Linked DNA regions of Homo sapiens: region 2 is linked to region 1. A link means that fine-mapping ties the variant in region 1 to the expression of a gene that starts in the linked region. Tissue or cell type: testis. Region 1 holds a variant in brackets; the other region holds the start of a gene. All regions are shown on one strand. Distances are between the middles of the regions.

The links. PIP is the estimated chance that this variant, and not a neighbour inherited with it, causes the effect.
Region 2: it holds the start of IQSEC1, and the variant in region 1 is fine-mapped to the expression of IQSEC1 in testis (GTEx, PIP above 0.99).

What each region holds. Positions count from the first base shown.
Region 1 is chr3:13,290,072-13,292,752 of GRCh38, reverse strand. No RefSeq gene overlaps it. Among named protein-coding and RNA genes, the nearest start is that of NUP210, 130 kb to the left of the region's middle. The variant C/G (reference allele first, on the strand shown) is at 1,471.
Region 2 is chr3:13,071,850-13,074,530 of GRCh38, reverse strand. IQSEC1 (IQ motif and Sec7 domain ArfGEF 1) reads left to right here and starts at 1,102. Exons shown (of 14, transcript NM_001134382.3): 1 at 1,102-1,539. The coding sequence starts at 1,517. RefSeq lists silencers at 727-906, 1,027-1,186.

The DNA.
Region 1 (2,681 bases):
ACTCCTGGGCTCAAGTGATATTCCTACCTCAGCCTCCCAAAGTGCTGGGATTACAGCGGTGAGCCACTGTGCCCAGCCAAAGCTGCTCATCTCCCCACTACGTTTCTCAATAGCAGTCCTGCTTTGCTGAGCTCTCACAATGGAAAATAAATCATCCAAAACTGAAACAACAGGGTCATTGAACAACCAACCTCCAGTCAGCACTCCAGCAGGCTTTGTGTATAACACACATGGAGCTTACACTGGCAAGTGTCTCCTTGGATGGGAGGACTTTACCAAAGGAGATTTCACATTAAAATGGCCAAAAATGGGATTTTCCAGTGTGTCCCTGGAAACTCCCGCAAAATATATCTCTCATCCTGTGCAGATATTAAATGATTTAAATTGTTTGGTAAATTGTATGGGAGGCATTGTCAAATGATAAATGATACTAGATCTTTTTTCAGTTACATTTATGGGTATGTTATTGATATAAATGTTCCAAAAATAATATAAATTCATAAAAATCTAATGTTATCAGTAATAATTTTGATTGTTATATTAAATTGTTTGTAAGTTATATGTGTGTGGATATGTTGTTAATATAAGTGTTCCAAAGATTATATAAAATTTATAAACATCTAATGGCCCTGATGTGACACCATCAGTCATAATTCTGGTTGTTATCATAAAATGCTGTGTGAAATAGAAATAACTAAATTTCCCTGTCAATTAAAAACTTTCATCAGATTTTAACCAAGGCTATTCTAAGTTTTATTATCCACAGTTATTGTTATAAATTATTCTGTAAAAACATTTGCAGGGTGAGTGCAGTGTCTCACGCCTATAATCCCAACACTTTGGGAGGCTGAGGTGGGAGGATTGCTTGAGTTCAGGAATTCAAGACCAGCCTGGACAACATAGTGAGACCTGGTGTCTAAAAAAAATTAAAAAATTATCCAGGTGTGATGATGTGAGCCTGTAGTCTTAGCTACTCAGGGGGCTCAGGTGGGAGGATCGCTTGAGCCCTGGAGGTTGAGCCTGCAGTGAGCCGTGATGATGATGCCACTGTACTCCAGCCTGGGTGGCAGAGTGAGATCCTGTCTCAAAAACAAAAACAAAAACACTTGCAATCAGCTCTAGTCCAAAATTGTTTTTCATAAAAAGACTATACTAAATATGGGTACCAAAAGGGGAAAAATATTACAATCGATTAAAAAAAAACTATTCAAATGTATGTTCCAGTTTTGTTAAATGGTTATCGTGGGTTTTACAATCTGTAACTCACTTTAATGCTATTAAATATGTATTGCTACCTATAATCTGTAATATCCTTGTAATAGTCCTCCTGCTGAGGTATTGTGTTAGGTACAGGAAAAGGCAATGTCACAAAGAACAACAACAACAAAAAAACCCCAGATCATGCTAGTTAAAAGTAGATGCAATCTGAAGTGTGTTTTTTGCAAAATAGCCAAGTATGCATGCTGAGCC[C/G]GATACAACTACCACTGAAGCTTCCCTGCCTTCCTACGCAAGAGTCTTCCTGGCTACATAAGACAATCAGTGTTTGTCTTGTAAATGCAACTAATAGTTGATTATGAGCAAAAGAGGGAACTTGTGAGACAAAGTAACAAACCTAAGAAGCCATGTTTGCTCATTTTGGCTTGTCAGCATAAAGTGTAGCTCTCCAGAAAGATGTTTTGAAGGCAAAGCAGGCTAGATCACAAGGCTCCCACATCTCTGACCGGAGTCACTATTTTTTAGAAGTGAAATAACCCCAGTCCTTGCCTTTTCCCACACATTAAGATAATGTCTGCTGGGTTTAGTGCTTCTGCTAAGCACATGCACTTCCACACCCAAACCTAGGTGTGACTCTGCTGTAATGTAACTTCTGAACAAGTTTAATGTGGATTTGCACACATTAATCCTCCACCACCTGTATATAAGCCATGGGCTGAAATGCTGTGCAGGAACGGCCTGATAGAGCCTCTCTAAAGGGCTGCTCCTGGCTACAGGCCTCAGTCTATAGTCCTCAGTCAAGCTTCTACATAAAACTGACTTTCGGCCGGGCGCGGTGGCTCACGCCTGTAATCCTAGCACTTTGGGAGGCCTAGGCCGGCTGATCACCGGAGGTCAGGAGTTCCAGACCAGCCTGACCAACATGGAGAAACTCCGTCTCTGCTAAAAATGCAAAATTAGCCAGGTGTGGTGGCGTATGCCTGTAGTCCCAGCTACTCAGGAGGCTGAGGCAGGAGAATCGCTTGAACCCGGGAGGCAGAGGTTGCATTGAGCCGAGATCACGACATTGCACTCCAGCCTGGGCAAGAAGAGTGAGACTTCGTCTCAAAAAAAAAAAATTGACTTTGATTTTCTAAAAGCTTGATCTTTTCTTCAGTCAATATAGGGTAAGGGTTCCATGGCCCAGTGCCCTCCAGGGGTTGGTAAACATGACCACATAAGCACCCAACTTGATCAATAGCAGAGGGCATCTGATGGTGGCCAGGTGGGACAGCCACAGCAGGGAGGTGGGTTCCTGCTGCCGCCTCCAAGGAGCTAAGCAGGCTGGGTATCCTGAGGGTGCACCCCTTCCCCCCTCCCTCCATCTTCCTGGCTTCAAGCCAGGCTAGGGGGTGGGGGACAGCTGCAGGAGGTGACAGTGTCACCTACGGAGCCCCTGTCGTGTGCCTGGCTAGACTCTCGACTTG
Region 2 (2,681 bases), 220 kb after region 1:
GCACGGAAGAATATTATCTACATGCCTCTGAGATAGGTCTGGGATTCCTGGTTTACAGATGAGGAAGCAGAGAGGATCAGATGAACATCAGACAGGAAGAGAGAAATCTGTGTGGGAAAGGCGGGTGTGGGAGCCGAGGATGGATGTGCGCTTCTCCCCTCCACCTCCCTGTCGCACACTGCACCACGCTGGCCTCCTCTGGGCCAGTCAAATACACCAGGCTGCCTTCCGCCTCAGAGCCTTGACGCCAGCTCCTCCCCTGCTTCTTGCGTCATCCGAGTCTCAGCCACACGTGCCTCACAGAGGGCCTTCCCGACCACCCCGTCTGATGGCAGAAGCCTCCTTCCCGCCTCTCTTGGGGTCCCTGCCTCCCCTCTTCCTGCTCTCTTTTCATCCTGATCCTTATCACCACGTGCAATCCTATATCTGCACACTTACTTCCTGGCTTCCCCTTAGACTGTAAACATCATGAGGGCAGATACTTGCCCGGCACATGGAAGGTCCTCGGGAGAGGAAGAGGCACCATAGCTAGACCAGAAATTCTCCCTAGCCACGTGCAGCCCCCTTTGGGACAGGACTGGCACAAACGAGGACTGCTCTGCCATCCACCGTGCAGCTACTGGCGTGGTGCGCCCTCCTGGAACCCCGTGGTATAGCTGTTATGATCCCTTTCACAGTAGCATAATCAAGACTCCCAGGAGAGACGCGGCTTGCCAAGGTCTCATCGCCCTTCAGTGGCAGAGACAGCCTTGGAGTCGGCCGGCCTCACTCCAGGGCCAGAGCCCCGAGAGCTCCGCGGCTCGCGTGTCTCAGTGCCGAAGGCAGAAAAGCCGCCTTGGAAAGTAGTGTCATCGTAGGCTCCGCGCGGCGCGTGCATTTTAGCAACAGACTTCCAGGTTTCCAGCGCGGGCCAGGAAGGGGCCGGCGCCCCGCGCCCCGCCGGGTGTGTGACTTTGCCGCGAGGGCGCAGCCGAGCGGCCGCGCCTGATGCTGCTGTTGCCATGGCGACCAGCGCCTCGGCGATTGGTCCGGCGCGGCCGCACTACGTTGCTCCTTGGGCGCGGGGGGTGGGGGAGGCTCCGGCGCGCCCGCCCCTTCTCCGGATGCTGCGAGAGCAAACCCGGGGCAGCCTTCTCTCGACCCTCCCCTCCTCATCCCCGCGCCCCGCACCCCGGATGGACGGGAGGGAAAAACCCCAAGGTGGGCCCAGGTAGCAGCGAGGTGGACGCCCCCGCCCAGCCTGGCGACCACGGTTACTCGACGTCCTCGCTCGCTCCTGGGCACGGTGTGAGCGCGCGCTACGTGCCAGGGCCCTCCACAGCCCGCTGCTGGCGCCGCCCCCCGCTCCCGCCCCAGCCTCCCTGGAGGAGCCCGCCACCCCCGGGAATGTGACTCGCCCCGCGATTTAATTTTATTCCCCTCCACTTCTTGCCTGAGCCGCCTGCTCCTCTTGGAAACACGTTGAGCCTCCCCGCTGGAGAGGGAGCCAGAACAGGGAAGAACGGATTCACACAGGATGGCTTGCAGAAGACGCTATTTGTGAGTATATGTGGCAGGTTTCTGCCTGAAGCCAGAGGCCAGAGGGGCCCGGCTGAGCTGGGAGCTGGAGTGAGGGGCATCGTTGGGGGAGGGGCAGGTGGATGTGCAGGTGACTTGCAGAGGGAGCTGGCCACCCAGCAGGGATGCCGGCGCTCGGCCCCTGCAGCGGAGGTGTTTGTTGGTGATGACGATGAGAAAAAGGCTATTAGTCAGCAGGTCTTCAGCAGGCTGTGAAATTCCCAACTGTGAGAGCAGGTATCCCCCCTCCCAGATCCACATTCAGGGTGCCCAGACCGGCTCCTACTGTTTTGGCTTTGGTTTAGCCCATAGCCTGTTTAGGAAGAGAATCTCTGCCCAGCACGCCCATGGCCAGCCCTTCAGCCATGCCTGATAGAAGGTCGCAGGCAGGCTGAGGCAGTGGCCAGGATGCTGCGTCCTCCAAGGGCAGGTGAAGGTCCAGCCCACCGTCCCTAGCACGGAGGCATCAGTGTCCAGCTGTGTGCCCAGGTGTTCTGTGGGCTGGCAGCAGAGCGGCTGTGTGCTGGGCCTCACGCCAGCAGCAGAGGCTGTGAAAGTCTGCACGGGGCGGTGACATCACGGGCCCGGGTATTTATGGAAACCAAAGCCTGCGCTTCGGTTAGCCAGGCTTCCCAGGGGGCAGTGGGGTTCGAATGCCAGCTTCCCTCACAGCTCTCTGGGCGCTGCACTGTGCTGTTCTAGGAGGAGCAACCTTTGCCCTCCTCTGGGACCCTCGGCTGCGGGGGTTGAGGCCCAGCGTCAGGTCTCCACCTGCCTAAACTATTTGCCCAGGACCCACTCATTTGGGGCTGTGCAGTGACCTCAGACCTTAGGAGGTTAGAGAGCATGGCTGAGTCCTCTTGAGCTGGGCTCAGTCGCAAGGCTAGGAAAAGGAGGCCTGGAGCAGTATGTGGGGAGCCTTCTGGGGGCTACCCCAAGGCCTCCCTAATCGATGGAGGCCCCTTACCATGGCAGGGGCCTGTGGAACCCCTGATAGAGTGGCAGCTCCCCGTCACCTCCACTGAGGGAAAGTAAACACACCTCTGCCTCTGCTGCGTCAGCAGTGCCAGGCGGCAACCCACGGGGGATGGCGGTGGCCTCTGGTTCGGGGGATGGCGGTGGCC